Regions from separate parts of the Homo sapiens genome. Here regions 1, 3, 4 and 5 are each linked to region 2. Evidence: fine-mapped expression QTL. A gene starts in region 2. Each other region holds a variant in brackets. All regions are shown on one strand. Distances are between the middles of the regions.

Region 1 (6,049 bases), 100 kb after region 2:
TCATTGTAGATTATTTATAGGTAAATAAAATTTTTTAAATGACTTTTAACCCCACTACCCAGAACTAACCACCACTGGCGTAGTAAATGAATATATTGATTTACTTACAAATATAGGACCACAAGATATGGCACATGTTTTGCAACCAACCTGTTTTGATAGGCCCAGCTTGCTTCTGCTGCGCTACTTTATTTGCAACCCAAACCCGCTTTTAAAAGAAAAATCATGGTCTTGTATTTTACAAGTGATTTTTATAAATCTACATTATCATTTTAAAACTTTTCTCAAGATATGATATGCACACAGAAAGGTGCATATCGTAAGAAACAGCTTGATGAATTTTCACAAACCAAGCACACGCATGTAACCACAACCCAGACCCAGCAAAAGAGCATGTCAGGTACCCCGGGACCCCACCCCAGGCTCTTCCCAGTCACTATCCTAGGGCCAAACCAAGCGTATCACTACTCTAATTTCCAAACAGCAAAGATTCATTTCCCTGTTTTTGTACTTTTGCTAAGCAGTACCACATAACAAGCACTTTAGTTTGCATTGTGCTTCTTTGCTCAAAATCATGTTTAGGAGAGGCATCCACGAATGGCGGTGTGTGGAGTTGTTACTCAGTCATTTTCATTGCTGTGTATTATTCCTCTGCATCAATATACCTGTTATTTTCTCTTTTTCAGTTCATAGGCATTTGGGAAGCTTCCAGTGTGGAGTTCTTAGGAACAGTGCTCTATGAACGTTCTCTTATATACACATCTTCTTTCTTCTCCTTTTATTTATTTATTAAAAACAATAGAAATGAAGTCTTGGTATGTTGCTCAGGCTGGTCCTGAACCCTTGGCCTCAAGCAGTCCTTCCGCCTTGGCCTTCCCAAGTGCTGGATTTACACCATGAGCTACTGTGCCTAGCTCTTTTCTTTTTAATTGACATGTAATAATTGTACATATTTATGGGTACATAGGGATGTTTCCGTACACATAATGTTTAGTGATCAGATCAGAGTAATTAGCATATTTATCATCTTGAACATTTATCATTCCTTTGTTTTTTTTGGAGGCAGAATCTCGCTCTGTTGCCCAGACTGAAGTGAAATGGTGCCATCTTGGCTCACTGCAAACTCCACCTCCCGGGTTCAAAAGATTCTCCTGACTCAGCCTCCCGAGTAGCTGGGATTACAGGCACCTGCCACCAAGCCTGGCTAATTTTTGCATTTTTAGTGAGACGGGGTTTCACCATGTTGCCAGGCTGGTCTCGAACCCCTGAACTGTTCCTAGGTGATCCACCCGCCTCGGCCTCCCAAAGTGCTGGGATTACAAGTGTGAGCCACCTCGCCTGGCCTTATCATTCCTTTGTTTTGGGAGCATTCAATATCCTCCCTCCAGATATTTCAAACTATAGAACTTACTATTGCTAGTTACAGTCATTCTAATACACATTCTTTTTTTTTTTTTTTTTTTGAGACAGGGTCTTGCTCTGTCACCCAGGCTAGAGTGTAGAAGCACAATTATGGCTCACCACAGCCTTGACCTCCCAGACTCAAGCAATCCTCCCACCTCAGCCTCTCAAGTAGCTGGTACCACAGGTGTGTGCCACCATGCCTGGCTAATTTTTTTTATTTTTGTGTAGACGGGGTCTCCCTGTGTTGCCCAGGCTGGTCTCAAACTCCTGGGCTCAAGTGATCCACCTGCCTTGGCCTCCCAAGGTCCTGGGATTACAGGCGTGAGCCACTGTGCCCGGCTTCTAATACACATCTTTTAGAGAACATATGTATGTGTTTCTGTTGGGTGTATACTCAGAGTGGAGTGTGTCCTTGAGCAGGAAGGGTGCTGGGGTCTATGGTCCAAGCTCTCAAGGGAGAGTCAGGAAGCAGAGAGGAGGCACTGGGGGCAAGAATTTGCCCAAGCCCTGGGAAGGGAGTAAGAGAGCCGGGAATCTCAACCACAGCCTCCCAACACCAAGCTGCTCGGCCCCCAGAAAGGGTTCTGACACCTGCTTTGGGCAAAATACAAGAGAAGGTCTTGGAGGAGGCAGTGACAGAAATTCGGTACTGGGCAGAGCAAGGGTTAACTGGAAGCAAAAAAGAAAATGTTTGGAAACTGGGAGTGGGCTGGGGGCAGATGGAGGGAGGATGGAGCTATTAAGCAGGAGCTGGAAAATTCCTGGGAACTGGGGCATGACCAGGAAGTTGGCCTGCAGTCTCCAGGCGGGCATGGGGAGATTCTGGGCCAGCCTCCCCAGCCCCTCACAGCCCTGCTCTCCCTCAGAGCACCTGCCTTGAGCTGCGCCTGCCCAGAGCCCCAGTGTAAACCCACTGAAACTGGTGGCCTGGGGTGTGAACCCCTCTTGGGGACAGAGGTTAAGGTCCCCTGATAGTGCGTCCTGCCCCCGACAGCCGCAGCTCTTTTGTCCTCGGTATCTCAAATACCACGTTACTCCCAGGTGTGCACAGCTCTGGACCTGGCCTCCTCAGCCTTTTCTGATCCAATCTGTCCCCATCTACGCCCTGTTCCTTCTAAGGGGTGACCTGAATCCTGGTTTCTGACCTGTGACTCTGCCACCATTGGTGCCAGGGGCAGTAGGCTGGGGGTGTGGCCAGAGGGTATTTAAAGCACCTGTCCTGGGCCTCCTGCTCCAGATGGGAGAGCCAGGGAGCCCAGCTGCCTGCTCCTCCAAAGGACCTGCAGCAGCAGCTTTGAGGGTCTTCGTGCCTTAGCCTGGGGTGGGCGGCAAGGCAGCAGATTCAAGCAGAAGGCTCTGACGTCTTCTTACAGCCTACTCCCTGGCCAAACTGGCCATGCTTATGAGCGCTTTGCCTTGTTCATCTTCTCGTTCATTCACTCATTCATACATTCCACATGCCAGGCAGTAGGCTTGATAGAGATGAATCAGCCATGAGTTTTGTCCTCAGTGGGTTTACATCTGAGTGAGAGAAGTAAGACCCATACCTCAGTCACTGTAATAAAAAGCAGAAAACAGTAGAAATTATTAACTAGGGCAGACACTAAGAAGGGTATAAAAGGGACAGAGTGCTAGTCATTCAAGAAAAGGAGCTTACTTCCAAGGGACATATGGGAGGCCATCGTGGAGGAGGAGGCATTTAAACTGTCTTAGTATCTGGAGGCTGAAATCAGTCCAGGAGTGTGTTCCTCCTTCCTAGGGGAGCATCTCATTTTTACAAAGATCTGGACCTGGGGCAGTGTAGATGTTGAGTGAATGGTTGAGCATTAAGCATCCAGGCTGACTGTCAGGTATGAAGTTTTCATTGCTAGAAAAGGTAGAGAGGAGGGCTGGGCATGGTGGCTCATGCGTGTGATCCCAGCACTTTGGGAGGCCGAGGCGGGCGGATCATGAGGTCAGGAGTTCAAGACCAGCCTGACCAACATGGTAAAACCCCGTCTCTACTAAAAATACAAAAATTATCCAGGCATGGTGGCGCGTGCCTGTAATCCCAGCTACTCAGAGGGCTGAGGCAGGAGAATCGCTTGAACTCGGAAGGCAGAGGTTGCAGTGAGCTGAGATTGCAGCATTGCACTCCAGCCTGGGCAACAGAGCGAGACTTTATCTAAAAAAAAAAAAAAAAAGAAAGAAAGAAAAAAAAAAAAAAAAGGAAAGGTAGAGGAGGCTTCTGGGCCTGGCTGGAGGCTCCAAAACCACGCCACTGTGGAGGAGGAACACAAGCCTCCTGTTTTCGACCTCAGCAAGGGGTGTGCCTGTGTAATCCACGGTGGAGCCTGGAGCCTGCTCCTGTGTCCCAGTCCACGCTCCGGGATGGG[C/G]TCAGGTAAAGCTGTAGGCAGGCCCCGGCCAATGCGTCCTCCGGGGGTGGGGGATGTGGGGCTCAGGTGGGAGGTGTCACAGTTCCCAGTTTCAATGCTGAGAGCTGTGACCTGGGCTGGAACAGCTTGCCTTCCTGCCCTCCTGCCCTGGGCGGTCTGAATTCTCCCACTGGGCTACATCCTCCCCTGCCTCTGAGCCTTGGCACAAGCTGTTCCCTTTGAAAGCGTTTCTCTGTCATTACCTAGAGTGTCAGAATCCTTGTGGAAACAGGTGGCCCACCTAGAGGTTTGAAGAGATTTAGTGAGGGGGTGGGCAAGGGTAAAGGACCCCAAAAGCGATGAGGAGGCACCGGGAGCCAGCAGCAGTGGAAAATCAAAAGGAGCGCAGGGAGGGACTAGCACTGCCAGGACCCAGCTCGAGCTGGGGCTGAAGGTGGAGGGTACTGGAGCCTGGGGGTCAGTCTCTCCGCCTCGGAGCAAGGCAGATCCCGGTGGAAGGCAGGAGAGAGGAGGAGGGGGAGGGCCCTTGCTAATGCTCTCCTTCAGACCCTGCTCCCCCGTACCTTCCTCCCATGTCCTGCTGCCGCCTTGCCCCCCAGCACCCAGCAGATGGTGCGTGACCACCTGCAGTCGACCCTGTGCTCAAGGGGAGGGGCGGGGTCTTATCCTTTTCCTCTGGCACCCACCCCAGTCTGGCACAGAGCCCAGAGATATCAGTATGTAAAAATGGCAAGGAGAGCCGGGCACGGAGGCTCATCCTGTAATCCCAGCACTTTGGGAGGCCAAGGTGGGTGGATTGCTTCAGTCCAGGAGTTCGAGACCAGCCTGGCCAACATGGTGAAACTCTGTTTCTACTAAAAATAGAAAAAATTAGCCAGGCATGGTGGCACACGCCTGTAGTCCCAGCTACTCAGAAGGCTGAGGTGGAGAATCACCTGAGCCCAGAAGGTTGAGACTGCAGTGAGCCATAACTGTGTCACTGCACTCCAGCCTGGGCGACCCGAGTGAAACCCTGTTTCAACAACAACAAAAGAAAATATTTTAAATCTACAGAAAAAGTGCCAGAATAGTGCAACAAATTCCCATATATTTGGGAGGCTGAGGAGGGCAGATCACCTGAGGTCAGGAGTTAGAGACCAGCCTGGCCAACATGGCAAAACCCCATCTCTACTAAAAATACAAAAAAATTAGCCGGGCGTGGTGGTGCATGCTTGTGATCCCAGCTACTAGGGAGGCTGAGGTGGGAGAATGGCTTGAACCTGGGAGGTGGACGTGGCAGTGAGCCAAGATGGCACCACTGCACTCCAGCCTGGGTGACTGAGCGAAACTCCCTCTCCAAAACAAACAAACAAACAAACAAACAAACAAACACCTCCCACAAATTCCCATATATATTTCACTCAGATTCATTATTATTATTATAATTGCTTTTAGATTCACGTATTGACATTTTACTGAATTTATTCTCTTTGTCTCTCTCTCCATACACATGCATACATGCATATTATTATTATTTTGGCTGAATGATTTGAGTCAATTGCAGACATCATGATCCTTTGCTCCTAAATCTTTAGTGTGTGTTTCTAAGGACATTTGCTTACGTGGATGATGTCAAAATGACCACAGGCAGTAAGTCTTACATTGATACGATACTATTATCTAATACACAGCACATATTCAGATTTCACCAGTTGTCCTAAAATTGTCCTTTTTTGTGATTTTTAATTTTCTGTTCCACAACTCAATCCAGGATCGCACATTCTTTTGGGTTCCAGGTCTCCCAGGTGTCCTTTGATCTTGAACAGTCCCTCCCTCTGCCTTTTTCATTCATCACGTTGACACTTTTGAAGAGTATAGGCCAGTTGTTTTGCAGAATGTCCCTCAACTAGGGTTTGTTTGATGTATTCTTTCTTTATTATTATTATTTTTTGAGACTGAGTCTTGCTCTGTTGCCCAGGCTGGAGTGTAATGGCGCAATCTTGGCTCACTGCAACCTCTGCCTCCCCAGTTCAAGCAATTCTCATGCCTCAGCGACCCCAGTCGCTAGGATTACAGGTGCACACCACCACGCCCGGCTAATTTTTTAATTTTTATTTATTTATTTATTTATTCATTTATAGAGATGGAGTTTCACTATTGTCGCCCAGGCTGGAGTGCAATGGAGTGATCTCGGCTCACTGCAACCTCCACCTCCCAGGTTCAAGCAGCTAATTTTTGTATTTTTAGTAGAGACGGGGTTTCACCATATTGTCCAGGCTGGTCTGCCACTC
Region 2 (6,049 bases):
ATGAACTAGCATCACTCCAGGCCTCTGCACGAAGGGACCTTTGGGAGAATAATAGAAACACTGACTCATCACATGACCATTTGAAGGGATCACAAGCCAGAGGCTGTCATTCTGCAGCCAACAACAACTTGGATCCTCCACCCTCGGTGGAGGGTCCCTTTTGTTACTGAGAAACCACAAGCCACAGAAGTGGGAAGAAACACAGGAACTGCAATCAAGGGATATGCCCGAACTAGTCTTGAACAATAGTAAGTTAGAGACTCTGTGTCCAAACTGAGAAACCTCAGGGTCAAACAAAAAGACAAGAAAAACAAAAACCAAACTAAAGGGGAAAATGTTGATAGGAGCAAGGTGAATGCCATAAGGTCACAGAAACTTTATGGGGAAATGAAAGAAATGCCAGGGGCAGTTTGGACGTTGTTTGGAGATTCACTAACAGGAATTTACTGTGTACTAAGTATCCTAAATTCCTTAGGGTAGATGTGGGTTTTCTTCAAGCACAAAGTTGCATCTCAGCTATTCCAGCTGCTCATTGGCCAATATGGAGCAAACTCTGCCAGGGAGTGAGTTTTACAGGGTGAGGTGGAGCAGGTGGGGCTCCATAATGTAGCTAAGAACAGAGGTAGCTGAGGTGTGCTGGAGTGTGAGAAGATGGCATGAAATATGGAAGCCATGTGGACACTTGTTCTGTGTATGCCTGTTGAAAATTTGGGTAGCTCCCCTAGGGCCAGGAAAAAAGAGCACCTATTTGACATTGGTGGTTTAGGGGCAGTGGAGGGGGAAAGTGTAACCTTCAGATGTTTGGGGCAAGAGAGAAAGATGCCTTAGGATTCCGAGGGTCCTTGGGACTCAGAATGGATATGACGGAAATTGCATTCATCTTATGTTACAGAATATTTTGGCTCCTACTTGTTGAGAATATGTTGACAAGAAAATGGGCCAAAACAAACAAGGTGAGATACGGCCTCAAGGTGAATGTCTGCAAAAATGTAGCCACAAGCCGGGTGCGGTGGCTCACGCCTGTAATCCCAGCACTTTGGGAGGCTGACGTGGGTGGATCATTTGAGGTCAGGAGTTCAAGACCAGCCTGGTCAACATGGTGAAACCCCGTCCCTACTAAAAATACAAAAATTACCTGGGCATGGTGATGTGCGCCTGTAGTCCCAGCTACTCGGGAGGCTGAGGAAGGGGAATTGCTTGAACCCGGGAGATGGAGGTTGCAGTGAGCCGAAATCGTGCCACTGCATTCCAGCCTGGGCGACAGAGAAAGACTCCATCTAAAAAAAAAAAAAAAAAAATGGGGCCACACAGCTTCAGGTAGGGAGACCACTTGGCAGCTTGTGTTTAAATAACATAAAAGCACAACAAAAAATGCCTGCTTTTTTTCGTTCTTTTTTTTTTTTGAGATGGAGCCTTGCTCTGTCGCCCAGGCTGGAGTGCAATGGTGCAATCTTGGCTCACTGCAACCTCTGCCTCCTGGGTTCAAGTGATTCTCCTGCCTCAACCTGAGTAGCTGGGAATACAGGCGCCCGCCACCATGCCCAGCTAATTTTTGTATTTTTAGTAGAGATGGGGCGTCACCATATTGGCTAGGCTGGTTCTGGAACTCCTGACCTCAGGTGATCCGCCCACCTCAGCCTCCCAAAGTGCTGGGATTACAGGTGTGAGCCACCGCGCCCGGCCACCTGTGGTTTTTCTTTACTGCAAACTCAATGTGTCATAATTAACATCATGGGGTTGCCAAAAACGTAATATTAGGGTGCATTAGTAAAAGTATGGTGTCTGCAGGAAGGAGGCACGAGTCCAGGCCACCGCTGGTACGCCATGTCCATTTGTGGCCACCAATGTTAAGCACCTCAGTAAAGGCAGAGGTAGCAGGAAGGCCAAAGGAACAGGGATTGTTCAACTGGGAAGTGAAGACACTTTAAAACAAATGTGGTTCAAAACTGGATTGGGCCGCTTCTTAACAGATAGTGAGTTTCTTACCCCTGGAAGTATTTAAGCAAAATCTTGACTAATTGTGGGTGGCTAAGGGAAAGATTACTGCATGGAGCAGAAGGTAAAATCAGTTATCCTTTCAGCTTTCTCCCAGCGGGATGATTTTGATTTCCGCACCCCTTCTTTGCCTAAATCCCTAGGCAGCCCCCCAGTCTCTGACCACGGCCTGGGGCAGCTGCAGAAGGGGCAAAGAGGAGCCTTCCAGATCTGCTGCTGCCTCTCCACTGCCAACGGCGCCAGCTGCTTCCTGGTCTTGCCACCAGCAGTCGGGAGGCCGGCCATCTGCCCCCTGGGTGCCCAGAGGAGCCCGGGGCTTCAAAAGTGGCTAGGGCCCCAGGCCAGGGAGCGGTTGGACCCACAGATCAACGCACTCCGGCGTTAGGGTGCAGACCTTCTGGCAGGCTGGGGGCAGGCCTAGAACTGCTCAGCGGCACAGCGACCTGGCGTCGTGGGTTCGAATTTCCACGGTTCCCACCTCGTCACAACAAGGCGTCTCGGGTCCCACCGACAGGGGCCATGCCCGGGGCGCGCAGCCTCTGGTGCTAGCCTTGTTCCCGAAGTCTGTTTCCTCCCGGGGCCTCGGTCTGACGCCTTCAGTCAGCGCTTCGCAGGAAGCCGACTCCCAAACCGGGGCAGGGGGTGTGGGCCGAGGGCGAAACCCCGCCCCCAGGGGTCCCTGATCTTTGCCCCCGCCCCGGGCTCCGCGCCTCTCGGAGAGGCATCAGCAGGCGGGCGGCGTTGCCTTTGTGTGTTTCGCTTCGAGGTGCCAGAGACCCTCCCCACAATCGTCCGCCGCGTCCCCTCGCGGCCCTCGGCCCCTCCTCTCGGCGTCCCAAGCCCCCCTGCTCAGCTCTGCGTGCCATTTCGGGGATCGCTGGTTCGCTCCCCACGGCGCCAGGAGGAGGGGCGAGGGCCGGCAGCCCCCTCTCCCGCGCGCGGCGCAGGAGCCGAGCCCAGCCCGGGGGACCCGCCGCCGCCGGTCATGTGGGCCGGACTGCTCCTTCGGGCCGCCTGTGTCGCGCTCCTGCTGCCGGGGGCACCAGCCCGAGGCTACACCGGGAGGAAGCCGCCCGGGCACTTCGCGGCCGAGAGGTAAGCGCCCGGAGCTCCTCCCCGCTCCCCCGCCCGGGAGAGCGCTACCGGCGTGCAGTCGAGAGGCGCGGAGGGGCGCTCAGGAGCCGCAGGCAGCCGCGTGTCGGGGCTTCCTCTGGGGTGCTATCAGCGCGGGCACAGCTCGGGGACGGCACAAAGAGTCAGCAACTTGTGCCTCTAGGCGGGTGCTCATCGTGCCCCCCTGGCTGGGGCTGTCCAGACTGGGACCTGGGAGATCGGAGGTCCAGGCGTTGGGTGACTCCTAATGTGCCCTGGAGCGCGGACCTCTGGAGAGGGGAGCCCAGGACGTGCCATCTGGTCTCCGGACTGGCTGGCTCACCCCCCAGCGTGCCCGTGGCTCTGCCCGGGCAGCGCCTGGCCTCCCCTGCCGCGCGGGGCTTTCCCTGGGTCTTGGCCCTACGAACTTCATGGACCTTGGAACAGCCGGGGTCTCTGGGTCACTTTTCGTTTTCTGTCCGTGCGTGTGCGCGCGTGGGGGTGGGGTGCATGCCCCTCCGCTGTCTTTCGCGATGGATGCCGCCCTCCGCACGTGCTTTCCCCCGGGCCGCGGTGGGGCCGTGCGCGTGTGTGCGTGATGCTCGGAGCTAGGGAACACTGTGTCAGCAGGCGGCCTGGCCCGCGGCCACGTCCTCCGGGGGGCGCGCAGCGGGGGCGGCCCGGCCAGGCTTGTAGCTCACACGTGTGTTCCACAGCCACCGCCAGTTCCTGCTCAGAACCTGCCCCGACTCCCCGGCGTTCCACAGGCTCCCACCACCTGTCCCTCTGTCACCAGCCCTAGGAGGCTCCTTAGGGCGCTCTGGCGGGTGCTCGGTCCCTGCCCACCTGAGAGTTCGACTCCATCAGCCTCCCTGGGCACCCTTTTATCTGCCGCCTTGGTGGCACTGCCTGTCCGTTTCTGAGAGTCCCAAGGCTCCGCTCATTCGCCCGGTCCCCTCCTTCTCAGGCTGCTGCCATAATCACTCCAGCAAGGGGGTGGATGAGACTTCACTGCCAGCTCCCGCCAGCAGGAGGGCCCCCCCTTTCTTCTGTGATGACCTCAGAGAGGGAAAAAGGCCCCAGGGACAGCTTTCCTCAGACTTTTGTGTGCTGCCATTGCACCCTGAGCTTCCCTTTCCGGAATACTTGTCACATTTTGGCACAGATTTTTCTCCCCAAGAACACGCTAAGTTTGCCTTGTCCCATGTCCCCAGTGCCCAGCGCAGAGTGGGTGCTTTACAAAGTGCCTGCCTCGCAGAATCATCTTCCCTCCGCTCTGAACATTGGTGGAACACCATTGGGAAGGGGTTTCTTGTCCCTTTTCTGTTGCGGTGGGGTTGGAAGCTCAAACCAGGCTGGATTTCATCACCCTCTGTCCAGTCCATGACTGGAGCTGGTTGCAGTTGTCCTCTCTGTCCCCCTCCAGGCCTGCAGTTGTGCTGTTTCCCCTGCTAGAACACCCTCTCCCTTCCTCTTCTTTTGCTGGCTGCCCTACTTTTTTTTTTTTTTTTTTTGAGACAGAATCTTATTCTGTCACCCAGGCTGGAGTGCAGTGGTGCGATCTCGGCTCACTGCAGCCTCTGCCTTCTGGGTTCAAGCGATTCTCATGCCTCAGCCTCTCGAGCAGCTGGGACAACAGGCACATGCCACCACACCTGGCTAATTTTTTTTTTTTTTTTTTTTTTTTTTGAGATGGAGTTTTGCTCTTGTTGCCCAGGCTGGAGTGCAGTGGCGTGATCTCAGCTCACCGCAACCTCCGCCTCCCAGGTTCAAGCAATTCTCCTACCTCACCCTCCCAAGTAGCTGGGATTACAGGCATGCGCCACCATGCCCGGCTAATTTTGCATTTTTAGTAGAGTCGGGGTTTCTCCATGTTGGTCAGGCTGGTCTCAAACTCCTGACCTCGGGTGATCCGCCCGCCTTGGCCTCCCAAAGTGCTGGGATTACAAGCGTGAGCCACCGCGCCCGGCCTGTATTTTTTTTTTAGTGGAGACAGGGTTTTGCCATGTTGGCCAGGCTGGTCTCAAACTCCTGACCTCAAGTTATCTGCCTGCCTTGGCCTCCCAAAGTTTTCTCTCTCACCTCAGCCTAGATGCTGCCCTTCCAGGAACCCCCCCTGACCCTCCTCAGGGCTCCACAGTCTGTCCCACTGTGGCATTTGTCACTCTATGCTGTTATCACCTAGCTCCTGGTCTGCCCTACTTTCCTTGAAGGTGGGGGCAGTAGTTTGTTTATGGCTGTATGGTCACGCCTTACTCAGCACCCAGCACCAGTTGGATGCATCTGGCTTCCTGCCCTTTCTGGACCTCATTCCTGCTTGAACAGACCCCTACTGCCTCCAGTTTTGGGCAGCTCATTCATGACCCCACACCCACCCAAGAGATGTCACCTATGCCATTGCCCTTCTCAACCTTTCCCTCAACAGCCATTTATTGAGCACCTACTACATGCCAGGCACTCCTGTACGTGCTGGGGTAAATAGATAAGAAACCCTTGTCATCAGGGAGTTGTAGGGGAGACAATGAATTAATAAATTAAAATCTAATGTCACAGGAAGTAAATGTTGTGGAGAATAAAGCAAGGTAAGGGTGGACAAGGAAGGCCTCTCTGAGAAGGTGCCATGGGCAGAGATCTGGGTGAAGGGAGAGAGGAAGCCCAGTGTGTGTCTGAGGAAGAATCTTTCTCTCTCTCTTTTTTTTTTTTTTGTTTTGAGACGGTCTGGCTCTGTCACTTAGGCTGAAGGGCAGTGGCGCCAACTTGGCTCGCTGCAACCTCTGCCTCACAGGCTCAAGCCATTCTCCCACCTCAGCCTCCCGAGTAGCTGACCCTACAGGTGTGTGTCACCATGCCCAGCTAGTTTTTGTGTTTTTAGTAGAAACGAGGTTTCACCATGTTGCCCAGGCTGGTCTCAAACTCCTGGGCTCAAAATGATCAGCCTGCTTCGGCTTCCCAAAGTGCTGGG
Region 3 (6,049 bases), 36 kb after region 2:
GACCTCCAGGTCTGGCGTGGTGGCTCACGCCTGTAATCCCAGCACTTTGGGAGGCTGATGTGGGTGGATCGCCTGAGGCCAGGAGTTTGAGACCAGCCTGTCCAACATGGTGAAACCCTGTCTCTACTAAAAATAGAAAAATTAGCCGGGCATGTTGGTGCACACCTGTAATCTCAGCTATTTGGGAGGCTGAGGCAGGAGAATTGCTTGAACCTGGGAGATGGAGGTTGCAGTGAGCTGAGACTGCGCCCTGCCCTCCAGCCTGGGCAACAGAGCAAGACTCTGTCTCAAACAAAAACAAAAACCAAGAGGTAACCTCCAGAGCCCAGCTCCTTCTCCTGAAGCACACTATGTTTACCACCTACCTCTTATTAACAAGAGCTCCCTTTAAGGAAAAACAACTTTTTATTGAAGTAGAATATGAATTGCTTTCTTTTGATGATTTTTTTTTTTTTTTGAGACAGGGTCTCACTCTGTTGCCCAGGCTGGAGTGCAGTGGTGCGATCACAGCTCACTGCAGCCTCGACCCCTGGGCTCAAGCAATCCTCCTACTTCAGTCTCACAGGTAGCTGGGACTACAGGTGCATGCCACCCTGCCTGGCTAATTTTTTGTTTCTATTTTTGTTTTATTTCCAAGCCCATGAAGTGATAAACACTTGGTTAATTTTTTTACTTTTTTTTTTTTAGAGACAAGGTCTTGCTATGTTGCCCAGGCTGGTCCCAACTCCTGGACTCAAGCAATCGTCCCGCCTTGGCCTCCCAAACTGTTGAGATTACAGGCATGAGCCACTGAGCCCAGCCTCTTTTGATGATTTTTTTAAAAGTATAACAGCTTTCTAAAGATAAAGTTCATATGTCATACAATTCACACATTTAAAGTGTATGATTCAGTCATTTTAAGCATATTTTTAGAGTTACGCAACCATCTATTAATATGAATAGTTGATTTTTAAAATATAATCATTCCAGTTTTTTATGTGCTTGACAACGTCTGATTTTTCCTTGATCATACCTTCGATACTCTTTCTTCTTTTTTTTTTTTGAGATGGAGTCTCTCTCTGTTGTCCAGGCTGGAGTGCAGTGGCATGATCTTGGCTCACTGCAACCTCCACCTCCCGGTTTCCAGCAACTCTCCTGCCTCAGCCTACCAAGTGGCTGGACTACAGGCACCACCATACCTTGCTAATTTTTGTATTTTTAGTAGAGATGGAGTTTCACCATGTTGGCCAGGATGGTCTCAAGCTCCTGACCTCAAGTGATCTGTCCACCATGGCCTCCCAAAATGCTGGGATTATGGGCATGAGCCACTGCGCCTGGGCCGATACTTTTTCTTTTTTTGCTTCTTCACTCTTCATTTTCTTTTTGCTGAGCTTCTTCCTTCTTTCACAGATGATTCCTGACTTTCTGGTGGTTTATCTTAATGATTTTTTGACTTTACAATGATGTGAAACCATCAAAATTTTGCTGTATTTTGTATTTTGAATTTTGATCTTTTCCTGGGTTATCAATATGTGACACATGGATATTCAGCACTTTATTAAAAAATAGGGATTTACTTAGATGATTTTGCCCAACTGTGGGCCAGTATAAGGGTTCTGAACACGTGTAAGGTCAGCCAGGGTAAGCTGTGGTGTTCAGGAAGTGAGCTGTATTAAATGCATTTTTGCTGGGCACCGTGGATCACACTTATAACCCCGGCACTTTGGGAGGCTAAGGCAGGAGGATCACTTGAGCTCAGGAGTTTGAGACCAGCCTGGGTAACAAAGTAGGATCCTGTCTCTACAAAAATAAAATAGAACAGAACAGAACAGAACAGAACAGAATGCCAGGTGTGGTAGCATGTGACTGTGGCCCCAGCAAGTAGGACAGCCGAGATGGGAGGATCGCTTGAGCCCAGGAGGTTGAGGGTACAGTGAGCCATGTTTGCACCACTGCACTCCAGCCTGGACAAGTGAGTGAGAACCTGTCCCCCCCACCCCAAAAAAAAGCCTTTTTTTAAATTTTGGTGAAACGGAGTCCTGCTCTGTCTCCCAGGCTGGAGTGCAGTGGCACGATCTCAGCTCACTGCAACCTCTGCCACCTGGGTTCAAGTGATTCTCGCGCCTCAGCCTCCCGAGTAGCTGGGACTACAGGCACGCGCCACCACGTCCGGTTAAGTTTTGTATTTTTAGTAGAGATGGGGTTTCACCATGTTGACCAGGCTGGTTTTGAACTCCTGACCTCAGGTGATCCGCCGCCTCGGCTTCTCAAAGTGTTGGGATTACAGGCGTGAGCCACTGCGCTTGGTCAGAAATGCATTTTTGATTTACAGGTTTATTGGGAC[G/A]TGACCCCATCGTAAGTCAAGGAGCATCTGTGTTTATTTTCTCCTTGTGTACTGAGCCTTTATGATATGCCAGGCCCTAGGCTGAGACTTTTTAAAAAATTCTTCAAAGAAACTATTTTTTAGAGCAGTTTGATGATCATGGCAAAATTGAGTGGAAAGTACAGAGAGTTCCCATATGCCTCAGACTCCACATGATACAGCGTTGCCCCCTATTAGCACCCCATACCAGCGTGGCATGTTTGTTATAATCGGTGATCCTACACTGACACTGACATGTCATTGACATCCAATGTCTATAGTTCACATTGAGGTTTAGGCTGAGACTCTCCGTGCACCCTTTCATTCACACTCAGTCCTTACTGCTGTGCCCATTTTACAGATGAGGAAACAGAGGCCCAGGAGAGTTGCATGCCTTGCGTGAGGTCACACAGCTAACTGCCTGCCTCCCTCCGTTCATGGCTCCTTCAGTCTTCCCTTCCTGGAGGCAGGAGCTGGCTGGTCCTCACCAGGTGTGCTGAGGCCCCTCTGAGGACAGAGCTTGGGTGTCCCTGGTATACCTTGTCCCAGAGCCACCTTGGCCACTGGAGAGAGCCATTGTGCATCTCGTTTCACCCTCGTCTCTCTAGATTCCCTGTCTCCTCTGGAAGAAAAGCAGGGGCTCTCCCCTCACGGAAATGTGGCATTCAGCAAAGCTGGTCGGAGCCTGCATGGAGACACTGAGGCCCCTGTCAACTGTAGCTCCTGTCCTGGGCCCCCGACAGCATCACCCTCGAGGCCGGTGCTTCATCTCCTCCAGCTCCTTTTAAGAACGAACTTGATGAAAACACAGACTTTACCTACAAGCCCGGCAGGAGCTCATGGTCCACACTCACTCGCTTTGGGGCTGACAGCCACTTTCCCAGGGGAGCCTGGGGCCTCCCCTCGACTCTCACCAGGGCCTTCGACCCCTCCAGGAGCCCCCACTCTACCTCTAGCTTCCCCAGGGGCTCCTCAGCCACCTCCTGTGACTCCAGAGCGCTCGTTCTCAGCCTCTGGGGCCCAGATAGTGTCCAGGTGGCCTCCTCTGCCTGGCACCCTCCTGACGGAAGCTTCAGCACTTTCCATGATGGACCCCAGCCCCTCGAAGACCCCCATCACCCTCCTCGGGCCTCGCGTGCTTTCTCCCACCACCTCTAGACTCTCCACAGCCCTTGCAGCCACCACCCACCCTGGCCCCCAGCAGCCCCCAGTGGGGGCTTCTCGGGGGGAAGAGTCCACCATGTAAGGAGGTCACTGTGTCCGGGAGACTCTGGAGAGAGGACCTCTGCCAGTGGCCCAGGGTGTGTGCAGGGCAGCTCCAAGGATGAACCTGGTGGGGATGCCTGGGCTCCCTCCTGCAGGGGCCCTGGTGAGGATGGAAGACCCCCAAGGCTGGATGTAACCTTGTTCCCAAGAAGTGTTTGGAATGTGCTGTAAGAATGGAGGAAGTCGTTTCCACTGTCAGCATCCTCCCTGGACCGCGTGGCTGGCTCATCTTTTGAGAAGGGTTGGGACTGCCAAGTTCTCCTGGAGGAAGAGTTGCGTCCGGCTGGGATTCCACTCACTGGGACTGTACCGCCAGGTGTCATGCGTCTCTCTGAGGTTTCCTGATTAAAGGTTGTCTCGGTTTCCCCATGCTGCACTGCTCATTCACCGCTTACCTGTGGGAAGGTGGGAAACGTGACCCCAAGCCCACAGGTGGTAAGTGAGCATCCACCTTTACCCCACTGCTGGGGAGAAAAGCTGGCACCAAATTGTGACTGGGCTGGGGAAGGGTCTCCTGTAAGCACTTGGCGGCCTTTTATATTGGGAGACTTCTTTTTATTTTTTTCCCCAAGATCATGATTTTCTTTTCTGTTTTCTTTTTTCTTTTTTTCACTTTTATTTTAAGTTCAGGGGTACATGTGCAGGTTTATTATATAGTTAAACTCGTGTCACAGGGGTTTGTCATACAGATTATATTATTTCATCACCCAGGGATTAAGCTTAGTACCCATTAGTTATTTTTCCTAAGTCTCTCCCTCTACCCTCCCTCCACCCTTCCATAGACCCCAGTGTGTGCTTTTCGTGTCTATGTGTCCATGTGTTCTCATCATTTAGCTCCCACTTACAAATGAGAACATGCGGTATTTGGTTTTCTCTTCCTGCGTAACTTTGCTAAGGATGATGGCCTCCAGCTCCATTCATGTTCCTGCAAAGGACATTATCTCATTCTTTTTTATGGCTGCATAGTATGTACACCATGGAATACCATACAGACACTGGGGGGCTTCCACAGTGAGAAGGGAAAAGATGATGGAGAGGACTTGCTTCTGGGAAGGAACCTCTGAGACGAAATGACAGACCAGCAGTTTCTTTTTTGAGATGGAGTTTCGCTCTTGTTGCCCAGGCTAGAGTGCAATGGCAAGGTCTTGGCTCACTGCAACCTCTGCCTCCTGGGTTCAAGCGGCTCTCCTGCCTCAGCCTCCTGAGTATCTGGGATTACAGGTGCCCGCCACCACACCTGACTAATTTTTTGTATTTTTAGTAGAGTTGGGGTTTCACCATGTTGGCTAGGCTGGTCTCGAACTCCTGACCTCAGGTGATCTGCCCACCTTGGGCTCCCAGAGTGCTGGGATGACAGGCCTGAGCCACCGCGCCGGGCCGGGCCAGCAGTTTCTTAAGACGTGTTTTCAGCAGGAACACCTGTGGGCAGCGGGGAAGGAGCAGGGAGGGAGAGTTGGGGCTGCTGGGCCTTCTCGAAGCCTCAGCCAGCCCCCTCTGGGAGCTCTGGGGTTAGGCTGGCCCTTCGGAGCTGTCCTGAGCTGGAGCTACGGGGCAGGGCTTTCTGCCTCATATTGACCAGAGAGCTGCTATCAACCACCTTCCCAGCAGCTGGGAGACTGATCCTTCAGTCCTAGTGGGGGGATCTGGGCAGTGTAGCACAGTGTGCATGAGAGACGGAAAGAGGACAGTGCCGTCATGAATGGGGGGATGCGGATTTGTGATAAGGGAAGTGATGTGGGGCTGGAAAGCAGAAGCTGCTCTGTCACCAAGTCACCACTTGCTACCATTTTTTTTTTTTTGAGACAGGATGTTGCCCTGTCATCCAGGCTGGAGTGTAGTGGCATGATCACGGCTCATTGCAGCCTCAACCTCATGGGCTCAAGCCTTCCTCCCACCCCAGCTTCCCGGGTGGGTGGGATTAGAGGCACATGCCACCACGCCTGTCTAACTTTTAAAAAAATTTTGTAGAAATAGGGTCTCGCTGTGTTGCCCAGACTGGTCTTGAACTCCTAGGCTCAAGCGATCCTCCCACTTCAGCCTCCCTGAGTACTGGGATTACGGGCCTGCAGCCCCACACTTGCTACCACTGAAACCCATGGAGGCTGCGGAGTGAAAGCACCCCCGGGCATGGCCCATCGCTTTGCCGAGGCCGCCCTCTTCTGAGCCCTTCTCTGACCTGCTACTCACTCTGTGTCCCAGGGCGAAGGGTCTGCTGAAGTGTTTCCTGGCTGCAAAGGCAACCTGGTATCCAGTCCAGACGACAGTGTAGTCCTGGCCTCTAACCTGCGGCTGGTGGCAGGAATAATAAATGTGGGAGATAGGAGCATGGAAACCAAACAGTTTAGAGAGGCAAAGGACTTAGAGGCCGTTTTGTCCAGTAAGATACAAAGGGTCATGGTCATGAGCGGGGTCTGCAGCCAATGAATCTCAAGTTGGAGCCTT
Region 4 (6,049 bases), 160 kb before region 2:
CTCACTGTAGCCTCGACCTCCTGCCCCAGATCCCCAGTAGCTGGGACTACAAGGTGTGCCACCACACTTGGCTAATTTTTAACATTTTTTTTTTGTAGAGCTGGGGTCTCATGTTGTCCAGACTGGTCTCCAACTCCTGCCTTAGCCTCCCAAAGCTAATTACAGGTGTGAGATGCTGTGCCTGGCCTGATTTTCTTAATAGTATTTCTTTTCTCTAGCTAACTCTAAGAATACAGTATATAATACATATAACATAAAATACATGTTAATCGACTATGTTCTCAGTAAGGCTTCTGGTCAATAGTAGGCTATTAGTAAAGTTTTTGGAGAATCAAAAGGTATATGCAGATTTTCGACTATGCAGGGGTTGGCGCCCCAACTCCTGTGTTGTTCAAGGGTTAACTGCACACTCATTTGGGAGCTGCAGGCAAAGAACAGATTTGAGGGAATGCCAGATGATGAAGGCAGATCAGATGGCCATACCCATTGTCCATCAGAGAGATGAGAGTAGCTTTCACCACAGTGATGGTGCTAGAGATGGGAAGAAGTGATGGATTCAAGAACTATTTTGAAGCTAAGTCAACAGGCCTTGGATGATGGCCATGGAGGGAGAAGGAGCAGCTTAGGACAATTCCCAGCTTGAGCAACTGGATGACTGGTGATGCCATTCACTGAGGCTCTCAAGATGAGGGAGTTTTTGGTGAGTAGAACAGGGAGGGAGGGTAGCCTGGCTGAGTTTGAAGGGTTTTTCAGCCTCCTTCAAAGGAGGAGTCAAGTTGGCAGTTAGATATGCAAGCTGGAGCTTAGAGGAAGATGTGAGAACTGTCCACACATAGGTGGTGATGGGTACCCCGGTATGGGTGAGATCACTAGAGAGAGTATCCAGAGGAGAGAGGAGGCTCCTAGAAGAGCACTGTGAAGAACTACAAACAGAATGACTGGGAAGAGGACGGCGTGCCTCACAGAGGCAGAAGCATGGCTGGAGAGGCAGAAGGAAACAGAATCATGAAAATCAAGGGAAGGGGAGGTGTCCATAATTGGTTAGAGGCAAAGATAAAACTTCAATAAAGCCTGTTGGATTAGCAACATGGAAGTCACAGGTGACTTTAGTGAGAGATGCTTTCATAGCATAACGAGGTGGAAACATGGATAGATTAATATAAAGAATAAGTGAGATTTTAAGAAAGTAGAGACAAGTATAGTCAACCCCTTGAAGAAGCTGGATTACAAAGGGGAGGAAAGGAAAAGAAGAGTCAGCCGAGCGCGGTGGCTCACGCCTGTAATCCCAGCACTTTAGAAGGCCAAGGCAGGTGGATCACTTGAGGTCAGGAGTTTGAGACCAGCCTGGCCAACATGGTGAAACCCCGTCTCTACTAAAAATACAAAAATTAGCTGGGCGTGGTGGCACACGCCTGTAGTCCCAGCTACTCAGGAGGCTGGGGCAGGAAAATCGCTTGAACCCAGGAGGCGGAGGTTGCAGTGAGCCAAGATTGCACCACTGCACTCCAACCTGGGCAACACAGTGAGACTCTGTCTCAAAAAAAAAAAAAAAAAAAAAAAAGAAAGAAAGAAAAAGGAGAGTCACTGGACTTGACAAAGAAGCCAGGGCTTGGGAGTAGGATTGAGCCGAGTGGGACAGATGAGCATACAGGAGGCAGGCTGCTACTGACAGTGCAGAGCAAGGTAAGGGCAGAAGCCAAAGTTCCTGTGTCACAGAAGAATGGGTGTGCAGATGTGGGAAGGCAAGGGAGCTCCTCTCTGAGGGCTTCAATGTCCTCTGATGGAAGTCAGTGAGGTCGTCTGAGAATGGAGAGAAGGAAAAGTCACAGGTTTGAGTAATGGGTGGGAGGTTTGACCCAGTCATTGTGGAACATGAAAGAGCAGATTGGCCAAAGACATACAGCATGTGCAAAGGCCCTGCAGCAGGAGGAATTCTGCAAAGGGTGAGGTTGAAAGACTGACCATCTTAGAGGCTGGAGCACAGAAACTGAGTGCCTGGCCAAGATGAGGTCTGATATACTGAGATGTGCCAGCGATATCCTATGAGCCTGCTACACTGAGAGGTGCTAGGTGCTAATCAGGATCGAATAGACAATGATGAGGAAATGAATAAAGCATGAAATCCCCCTTGACTTAACACAGTAAAGGCTTCTCATTCACAAGCAGTTTGCAAGAGATTAGGTGGCCCTCCTCCTTCGTGTGCCACATTGTCTGGACGTGTGGTCTCTGGGATGTCTGCAGCAGGGTAACAGTGGGCTGCAACCACTCAAGATGTTTCCAAGGGCCAGGCCTGGAAGTGGCTTTCATTGCTTTCACTCACACTCTCTCTGCCGGACTCAGTCGCATAGCACCAGCCTTGTTATCAGGGCAGCTCCTTCTTTTTTTTTTTGAAACGGAGTCTCGCTCTGTTGCCCAGGCTGGAGTGCAGTGGCACGATCTCAGCTCACTGCAACCTCTGCCTCCCGGGTTCAAGCAATTCTCCTGCCTCAGCCTCCCGAGTAGCTGGGATTACAGGCGTCCACCACCACATGTGGCTAATTTTTTACATTTTTGGTAGAGACGGGGTTTCACCATGTTGGCCGGGCTAGTCTAGAACTCCTGACCTCAAGTGATCTGTCCGCCTCGGCCTCCCAAAGTGCTGGGATTACAGATATTAGCCACCGCACCTGGCCCGGAGAGTCTGCTTCCCACATGCTCAGGGCATTTCCTGGATGCTATAGGAAATGGTCTTTCTATATGCTCAGGGAGATCAAATGGTGTGGCGGGTGGATACCATCATCTCTGCCACGATCCACCGTTCTGTTTGCCAAACCAAGTTTTTCTTTTCACTCAGGGAACACACCCTCTTCCCAAGGGACCCAAAGTCCTATCTAGTCCCGATATCTGGCTCAAAGCCCAGGGTCTCTGGTGATGTGCAGTAGTCACTTCTCATCCAATGTGGCTCTTCTCAGTCCAGTAAGCCATGACCAAAAAGACAAGCAAGTTGCTCCCCTAACCCTGTGCCACACAGTGGTGGAGCAGGGACAGGACTCAGGGGTACCCGTTCATTACACCCCGGTGCTGCTTGC[C/T]GGGAGACACTCTCCTTATCCACTCTCCACATTGGCCCTGGCTCTTCTCTCTGGGAGATTCCTCCTTTTCCATCATCCTCTCTGGCTACAGCTGAAATGAGAGTGGCAGAGCCTGCCCTCTCTGGGGGCTGAGCACCGTCCCTCCTGCTCATGGATGATTGGAGGCCCAAAGGTTGTTTTATAGCTGGAACTGTCCAAAGGGCTGGCTCCCGGTTCCTTGGCAATACAATTCTTTACATAGTTAGTGTCTAACCTACTTGCCCTGGTCAGCTTTGTGGGCCAGTGGCCACGCTCACGCACGTGCCAAGTCTTTTCCTAGATCCAGTTCTTAGGTCTAATATGTTTTGCCTGTTCATCCTCCATGTCTCTCCCTTTCTACTCAATGGCTAGCTTGAGGCTATTTGGAACAATAAATAGGAGGCCCACCTTTAACCTGATGCTTGTCCTGAGTAACTGCATCCAAGAGAAAAGTTTTACCAGGCTTTTCTTGCCCAGATGAGTCTTATATCTCATCTCTTCCTATTTGGGGTGTAGCAGATTTTCCAACCCTGAAAGACCGTGGGTTTCTGTACTTTATTTCCTTTCATTACTGCTCAAACACCAGGTAATCCTCGCCTGAGCTCATCCCTTCCTTATAAATCCTCAACAAATACAGCCTACAGTAGCCAAGAGAGATGACAAGTTTTCTGCTTTCCAACTGCGTTGCCTTTGGCTGTCAGCCTGGAAAGCACATGGGATACCCTCCCAAGCTACAGTGGGCTGTAGTTTTATCAAACATTTTGCTAATGCATAACACAGACCTCCAACTTTCCAAGGGTCCTATATCAGTTTGTTTGCTAAGTGCTAAGCCACTGTCACCATAGGTGAGTAACTCAGTCCCTCTGGGCCTGTTTCCTCTTTGGCAAAATGAAGACAACAATACAAGCAACTTCATCAGACTGCTATGGAATTCAGCAGGACAAGCCATGTATGGTGTTAGCCTAATGTCTGCTCTGGAATAAGTGCTCAGTAAATGTTATTGCTGCTGTTCAAATAGATCAGTAGGAATCATGTGTGTTCATAGGCGATTGCTATACTAAGTTCACAAGAATCTGATCTATACTAAGCAGCTGCCTTTTTAAAAATTCAAGGGCCGGGCACGGTGGCCCACGCCTGTAATCCCAGCACTTTGAGAGGCCGAAGCGGGTGGTAAAGTCAGGAGTTTGAGACCAGCCTGGCCAACATGGTGACACCCCATCTCTATTAAAAATACAAAAATTAGCCGGGCGTGGAGGTGCATGCCTGTAATCCCAGCTACTCAGGAGGCTGAGGCCGGAGAATCACTTGAATCCATGAGGCAGAGGTTGCAGTGAGCCGAGATCACACCATTGCACTCTAGCCTGGGCAATAAACAGAGCAGACTCCATCTCAAAAAACAAAACAAAACAAAACAAAAAAACAAATGAGAGATTGACCCATCCAAGGGACAGGATGCTCATTCATGCTGGCCAGTCAGTGATTTTTCTCCCTATAAAGCAAATCTACATGGACAAGCCCTGTTGCCATCTGTATCTGTTATCAATTGCTACAATAATGCTGCATAACAAATGACCCCAAAACTTGATAACTTAAAATAATAAGCATTTCCTTAGCTTAAAAGTCTGCGGGTTCACAATTTGGACTGGGCTTGGCCGGGTAATTCTTCTGGTCTTGACTGGGCTCACTTAACTGTCAGCTGACTTTGGCTGAGGCAACTGGGGTGACTGGGACACACATCTCATCCTCCAGAAGTCTACCATGGGCAGGTTCTCACGTGGTGGCAGGGGTACAAGAGCTAAAGGGGAAGTGCTTTCTAAGGCTGTGCTTGCTTCACAATGACTGATATCTCATTGACCAAAGCAATGAGTTGACCCCAGCGTCTGGGCAGAAAGCCCTAAAAGCTACATGGCAAACAGCATGGACACAGGGTAAGAATCTACCAGACAGACCTGGCTCAGTGGCTCATGCCTGTAATCCCAGTGCTTTGGGAGGCTGAGGTGAGAGGATCGCTTGAAGCCAGGAGTTCCAGACCAGTCTGGGCAACACAGCAAGACCCTGTCTCTACAAAACTTTTTTTTTTTTTTTTGAGACGGAGTCTCTCGCCCAGGCTGGAGTGCAATGGTATGATCTCGGCTCACTACAACCCCCGCCTCCCGGGTTCAAGGGATTCTCCTGCCTCAGCCTCCTGAGTAGCTGGGATTACAGGCACGTGCCACCACGCCCGGCTAATTTTTTGTATCTTTAGTAAAGACGGGGGTTTCACCATGTTGTCCAGGCTGGTTCGAACTACTGACCTCTTGATCTGCCCACCCCGGCCTCCCAAAGTGCTGGGATTACAGGCGTGAGCCACTGCACCTGGCCCAAAATAAACTTTTTTTAAAAAATTAGCTGGGTGTGGTGGCATGCGCCTGTAGTCCCAGCTTCTCAGGAGGCTGAGACAGGAGAATGCCTCGAGCCCAAGAGTCAATCACACCACTGCACCCCAGCCTGGGTGGCAGAGTGAGACCCTGTCTCTATAAAAAGGAAATCTACCAGACAATCGTAACTGATTGCTGAGGGTGAATTCAGAACAAAAGAAGTTATTTCTATATTAAAAGTAGGTGTCTCAGAGCTCAGTGGCCTGGTGTCCTCATCCCTGCTGTGAGGATAGACCTGGCATACAAGGCTAGATGTCCTGCTGCCTGCTCTCACAGGGTCAGTGCCTGAGGCCCATAGACAGATCCTTTCGTGCCTTCCATTCACTTATCCCTTCTTCAGAGGACCTCTGCGGCACGAGCTCCATCTCATTGATCTCCGCGTCTTCTGTGTCTGGCACTGGGTGTAGCACATTGTGCTATGCTAGTGCAGACAACTTCTGCTTGGCAATCAATGAAATAAAGCACCAAGAACAGTGAGCTCCTCAAGGACAGACAAGATGCATTCTTCTCTATCCCCAGCATTTAGTGAAGACCATGACAGTGTTT
Region 5 (6,049 bases), 25 kb after region 2:
CTGTGTGTGAGTAGTGTGCGTCTGTGTGAGCATGTATGTGTATGTGTGCATTTGTATGAATGTGTGTAAATTTGTGTACATGTGTCTTTGCCTGTGTACGAGTGTGTATCTGTGTTTTGTGTAGTATGTCTTAGTATGTGCCTGTGTGTGTGTGTTTCTGTGTTTCTGAATAGTTTTCTGTGTGTGTGTGTCAGTGTGTTAATGGTATCTGTGGGAGTCTGTGTACATGTGTCTTTGTGTATGAGCATGTATGTGTATGTTTTGTGTAGTATGAGTGTGTCTCTGTGGTATGTATGTTATGTGTCTGTTTTTGTGTTTTTGTGTGTGCCTGTGTGAGCATGCATGTCTGTATGTGTGTATGTGCATGTAAGTGTATGATTCTATGAGTGTGTCTGTGTGTAAGTTTGTGTCTCTCTGAGTAGTATCTGTGTGTGTGTGTCTGAGCATATGTATGTGTATGTAAGTGTATTTGTATGAGTGTGTGTCTGTGTGAGTTGTATCTGTGTGTGTATGTAAATGTGCATTTGTATGAGTATGTGTGTGTCTGTGTGCATGTGTGTCTGTGTTGTATCTGTGTGTGTATGTAAATGTGCATTTGTATGAGTATGTGTGTGTCTGTGTGCATGTGTGTCTGTGTTGTATCTGTGTGTGTATGCAAATGTACATTTGTATCAGCATGTGTGTCTGTTGTATCTGTGTGTGTATGCAAATGTACATTTGTATCGGTATGTGTATGTCTCTGTGCATGAATGGTATCTGTGTGTACATGTATATTTAAGTGTGCATTTGTATGAGTGTATGTGTATCTGTGTGAATTGTATCTGTGTAAGTGTGCATTTGTATGAGTGTGTGTAAGTTTGTGTGTCCGTGTGTGAGTGATATCGGTGTCTGTGTGTGTTTGTGCGCATGAGGCATCTGTCCTTGCTGCTGTTGTAGTCTAGGTCTTGTGCCGTCTTTTCTCTGCCATTGTCCTCATCCAGGCTGCTCTCTTGACGACAACGGGGTTGAGTTTCCGATTGGACAGATCTGGTCGCCTGGTGACCCCTGTGAGTTATGCATCTGCCAGGTGAATGACAACCTGCTCGCCTTCAGCTGCTTTACCTGGCTGCCCCGCCTCACCCAGAGGAGACAAGCGTCCTGGCCCCTCCAGAGGCTGGCCTCAGGCTGGCCGCAGTCTCCCTCCGGTGCTGTCAAGTTCCACTTTCACAAAAAGGGTTGGACCGAGTTTATCCTGCTCTCAGTAGATGTGTGAGGACGATGGTGCTTGGCAGTTGGCCTTAAGAAGTGTGTATTGTTGGCCAGGTGCGGTGGCTCACGCCTGTAATCCCAGCACTTTGGGAGGCCGAGGTGGGTGGATCACAAGGTCAGGAGATCGAGACCATCCTGGCTAACATGGTGAAACCCTGTCTCTACTAAAAATACAAAATATTAGCCGAGCGTGGTGGTAGGTGCCTGTGGTCCCAGCTACTTGGGAGGCTGAGGCAGGAGAATCGTTTGAACCCGGGAGGAGGAGGTTGCAGTGAGCTGAGATCACGCCACTGCACCCCAGCCTGGCGACAAAGCAAGAAGGAGTCTCAAAAAAAAAGAAAAAAAAAGTGTGTATGGCCAAGAGTGGTGGCTCACGCCTATAATCCCAACATAGCTGAGGTGGGAAGATTGCTTGAGCCCAGGAATTTGAGACCAGCCTGGGCAACATGGTGAGACCCTGTCTCTACAAAAAAATACAAAAATTAGCTGCATGTAGTGACATGCCCCTGTGGTCCCAGCTACTTGGGAGGCTAAGGTGGGAGGATCGCTTCCTCAGCTCCTGAGGCTGACCCAGGAGGTCGAGGCTGCAGTGAGCCGTGATCACATCACTGCATTCCAGCCTGGGCAGAAGAGAAAGATCCTGTTTCAAAAAAAAAAAAAAAAAAAAGTGTGTGTAACACAGTGTGCATGTGCAGGGAGCTGCTGGCATGAGGAGTAAGAATTAGGAATCTTCATAGAAGGTTTTCCCCAGGCATGGATAACTGAGGGAGTGGGGTAGCCTGAGACCCAGTTGTTCAGGCTGTTTCTGTGAAATTGCAATGTTTTCTTCATGACTGCAAAACATGTGACCTCACCATTTCAGAAATGAGTAAGGAGGTGCATGAGTTTGAGTCAGATCAACAACAATGCAAACACAGCTATCCACCCAGAAATACAATTGTTTTAGCTCATTATTGAAGTACTAGTAATTGCAGTTTTTTACCATTACTTACAATGGCAGAAACCGCAATTACTTTTGCACCAATCTAATACATGCTGGCTTTCCTTTCTACTTTAAGAGCTTCGAGTCTTTTAGAGGTTTATTTCTCAAAATGAGGTCCCTTGCACCTGC[G/A]TTGGGAGCCCTGGTTAGACGTGCAGCCTTTCGAGGCCCTGCCCACACCTCTGCTCTCACAAACTGCATTTTAACCTCCAGGTGATTTGTGTGCACTTTCATGTGGGAGAAGCCCAGCCTTCTAGTGCCTTCGATGAGCCGTTTGTTAAAAAGCTGTAAGCTGGGCCGGGCGCGGTGGCTCACGCCTGTAATCCCAACGCTTTGGGAGGCCGAGGCAGGTGGATCATGAGGTCAGGAGATTGAGACCATCCTGGCTAACATGGTGAAACCCTGTCTCTACTAAAAATACAAAAAAAATTAGCTGGGCGTGGTGGCGGGCACCTGTAATCCCAGCTACTCGGGAGGCTGAGGCAGGAGAATGGCGTGAACCCGGGAGGCGGAGCTTGCAGTGAGTCAAGATAGAGCCACTGCACTCCAGTCTGGGCAAAAGAGTGAGACTCCGTCTCAAAAAAAAAAAAAAAAAATGCTGTAAGCTGAACACGTCTCATTGAAATTAGAGTTGGGAGGAAAGTCCTTCCTGTGCTGTCTTCTCCTTTATGACTGATTTCGGGCACCCATAATCAGTCACCAAGAGAGTGATACAAAAGGTTCAAACTGTCAGATTGTTTTTGTGTTTTTTTCTTTTAAAGAAAAAGAGGCCGGTTGCGGTGGCTCACACCTGTAATCCCAGCACTTTGGGAGGCCAAGGCAGGTGGATCATCTGAGGTCAGGAGTTCAAGACGAGCCTGACCAACATGGTGAAACCCCATCTCTACTAAATATACAAAAATTAGCCTGGCGTGGTGGCGCATGCTTGTAATCCCAGCTACTCGGGAGGCTGAGGCAGGAGAACCATTTAAGCCCGGGAGGTGGAGTTTGCAGTGAGCCAAGATTGCGCCATTGCACTCCAGCCTGGCAATAGAGTGAGACTCCGTCTTAAAAAGAAAAAAAAAAAAAGAAAGAAACCTTGTATGGCACTTTGGCTCTCTGAAATAGACACTTCTGGTGGCATTGTTTTTTCTAAAAATAGGGTTTTATGGTACTCTGTAGGTTCCTGGTGAGCCAGGGTTCCAGGGAAAAGCTGAGAAAGGATTTGGATGGTGGTGACGGTGCAGGCTTTGGCTGCTACAGGAAGCGGAGGAGACCAGAATCCCAACCCTGACCTTCCTTCTCCTTAAAGATGCATAGACTTCCTGGAAGGCTCACATGGCCTTTCTCAAGTAGCCGATCCTCTTTAGGGGAGACCTGCCATCTTCCAGCCGCGTCATGTTGCCTTTCAGGGCAAGCCTTGGCCAGTTTGCAGCGTTGCTGTTTCTTTTGCAGGGCGGGGAGGCAGGGGCCGGTGTCACCGGTGGGGTCTTGGTGAAGTTCCTCCTTCCTCCAGGCAGATGGCTCGGTGAGCTGCAAGAGGACAGACTGTGTGGACTCCTGCCCTCACCCGATCCGGATCCCTGGACAGTGCTGCCCAGACTGTTCAGCAGGTAATCCCCTGCCTCTGCCCCAAGCCCCCAGGGCAGGGCATCTCAGGCATCGGGCTCCTTAAGCCCTATACAGCCTTCATCTCATGTCGTCCTAACAACCCCAAGGGACAACCCCATTGCACAGATAAGGAAACTGAGGTAGAACAGTTTACCCAAGTCAGGCCCCCTCTGAGTGCTCGAGGCAGATCTGAAGACACGCAGGGCTTACGGTGCAGGTGGGTGGTACAGGAGCTGCACCTGTGAGACAATTGGAGAACAGCAGGAGGAGAGAAGTTTTAACAGTCATTTTTGCCTTTTAATAGTCATTTTTACCTTTTCCATGATTTCAGAAGTAATGTTTTATTATAGAAAATTTATCTTATTTTTTTGAGACAGAGCCTTGCTCTCTTACCCAGGCCGGAGTGCAGTGGCGTGATCTCAGCTCACTGCAACCTCCACCTCCCGGGTTCAAGTGATTCTCCTGCCTCAGCCTTCTGAGTAGCTGGGATCACAGGTGCCCACCACCATGCCTGGCTAATTTTTGTATTTTTAGTAGAGATGGGGTTTCACCATGTTGGCCAGGCTGGTCTCGATCTCCTAACCTCAGGTGATCTGCCTGCCTTGGCCTCCCAAAGTGCTGGGATTACAGGCATGAGCCAATGCACCCAGCTCCATTATAGAAAATTTAGAAAAAAAGTACAGAAAGCAAAAATAAAGAATATTAGCAAGGACCTATTAGCACTGTTAAATTTGTGTTTATGTCCTTCTAGTCTCTTTTTGTGATGCTCACACACATTTAGTAGATGTACATTATATATATAATATATATATAAACATACATATATTTATTTATTTTATTTTATTTTTTTAAAGCTTCCCCTACTGTCTCATCACCTGCTTTTACACTTAGCAGTATATGATAGTATCATCCAAGGTGGCATCACTCACATCAGGCTTCTGGGGCTGTCAGGAATCAGAGAGGGGAGTAGTGTTGGGGAATGTTCTGGACAGGCGGGGTTGGTGGTTTGAGTGAGTTTGGAGGGCAGAGAGGAGGTTGGGAAGATGCTGTGGGGCCTCACACACACCTCGTATTTCCCAGTTCTTCCACCTGATCCCCCCTGGTGAGGAGGTAGAGGATGAATCTCCCCACTCTTCAGGGTGAGGACACTGAGGCCAAGACACTTGATCCTTTTGCTGAATCCAGTGGGAAAAAAGTCAATACCCGATTCAGACAATCCAAACAGGCGTTTTGTCCCTTCCCTAACTCCCAGGGTGACTGCCTGGGGAGGCACATGGCCTCCCCTTTGCCATCCAGATAAGCCTGTGACCTTGGCCCTGGCGGGAAGCCTGGTGCCTGGCCACTCCCAGCTGGTGCTCAGCGCATGCTCTCTCTGGCAGGCTGCACCTACACAGGCAGAATCTTCTATAACAACGAGACCTTCCCGTCTGTGCTGGACCCATGTCTGAGCTGCATCTGCCTGGTATGGACCACCCAGATCTGACTCCCGCCCCTGGAAACTCCCCCACAACTGACATCGGCTCCTGAATCCCAGAGGCAAAATCCAGAGACCTCCAAGACAAGGGATGCTTCTGGTTCATGGTGGAAGTCAGCTCCCTCCAGTCCTGCCCAGGGTGACCCTTTAGACAGGGCCAGAGAAATTTTTTTTGTTTGTTTTTGAGATGGAGCCTTGTTCTGTCACCCAGGCTCCCAGGTTGGAGTGCAGTGGTGTGATCTTGGCTCACTGCAACCTCCGCTTCCCGAGTTCAAGCGATTCTCCTGTGTCAGCCTCCCAAGTAGCTGGGACCACAGGCATGCACCACCACGCCTGGCTAATTTTTGTATTTTTGGTAGAGACGGGATTTCGCCATGTTGGCCAGGCCGTTCCTGAACTCCTGACCTCAGGTGATCTGCCCACCTCAGCCTCCCAAAGTGTTGGGATTACAGGCATGAGCCACTATGCCCAGCCCAGAGAAATATTTTTAAACCTGGCTGGCAAAGTCCTCTGCTTCCGGGTTACCCCCTAGAGAGAGTCTTAGGGATTCTTGATGAGGGTGGAGGTGAAACGCACAAACCCAGAATCCAGTACTGGAACCTTTTCAGTAGACCCATGTGGTCAAGCTCTTGCAGTGTGCCACGCCCTTCATAGGCATGCACTCAGCTAATCCATTCAAGAGTTTATCATCTCATTCTTCTGGATGAGAAAACCAAGGCACAGAGAGAGTCTTTGCTCAGATCCCGTAACTAGTTAAT

Direction of the effects. Alleles are on the strand shown, and positions count from the first base shown. SD is a standard deviation of normalised expression in the study named. Not every link is listed here.
For the expression in thyroid of the gene that starts at base 2,702 in region 2, C is the high allele of the variant in region 1 and G is the other (small effect, 0.36 SD a copy in GTEx).

Evidence for each region. PIP is the estimated chance that this variant, and not a neighbour inherited with it, causes the effect. A credible set is the group of variants that fine-mapping cannot tell apart.
Region 1: its variant is the best candidate, but not a certain one, in a credible set for the expression of VWCE in thyroid (GTEx, PIP 0.61).
Region 3: its variant is the best candidate, but not a certain one, in a credible set for the expression of VWCE in whole blood (TOPMed, PIP 0.52).
Region 4: its variant is the best candidate, but not a certain one, in a credible set for the expression of VWCE in whole blood (TOPMed, PIP 0.87).
Region 5: its variant is the best candidate, but not a certain one, in a credible set for the expression of VWCE in whole blood (TOPMed, PIP 0.59).

Annotation. Positions count from the first base shown.
Region 1 is chr11:61,192,101-61,198,149 of GRCh38, reverse strand. LOC124902678 (a long non-coding RNA gene) reads right to left here. Exons shown (of 4, transcript XR_007062691.1): 3 at 2,619-2,959. Among named protein-coding and RNA genes, the nearest start is that of PGA3, 8.4 kb to the left of the region's middle. RefSeq lists enhancers at 3,650-4,149, 4,150-4,651. The variant C/G (reference allele first, on the strand shown) is at 3,780.
Region 2 is chr11:61,291,969-61,298,017 of GRCh38, reverse strand. VWCE (von Willebrand factor C and EGF domains) reads left to right here and starts at 2,702. Exons shown (of 20, transcript NM_152718.2): 1 at 2,702-3,090. The coding sequence starts at 2,981. RefSeq lists silencers at 2,623-2,692, 2,873-3,182, 3,623-3,882 and an enhancer at 2,949-3,651.
Region 3 is chr11:61,256,213-61,262,261 of GRCh38, reverse strand. VWCE (von Willebrand factor C and EGF domains) reads left to right here. Exons shown (of 20, transcript NM_152718.2): 20 at 2,950-3,976. The coding sequence ends at 3,587. Among named protein-coding and RNA genes, the nearest start is that of PGA5, 18 kb to the right of the region's middle. The variant G/A (reference allele first, on the strand shown) is at 2,324.
Region 4 is chr11:61,451,610-61,457,658 of GRCh38, reverse strand. No RefSeq gene overlaps it. Among named protein-coding and RNA genes, the nearest start is that of SDHAF2, 25 kb to the right of the region's middle. The variant C/T (reference allele first, on the strand shown) is at 3,069.
Region 5 is chr11:61,266,692-61,272,740 of GRCh38, reverse strand. VWCE (von Willebrand factor C and EGF domains) reads left to right here. Exons shown (of 20, transcript NM_152718.2): 14 at 981-1,066; 15 at 3,723-3,819; 16 at 5,197-5,279. Among named protein-coding and RNA genes, the nearest start is that of VWCE, 26 kb to the left of the region's middle. RefSeq lists an enhancer at 5,226-6,049. The variant G/A (reference allele first, on the strand shown) is at 2,360.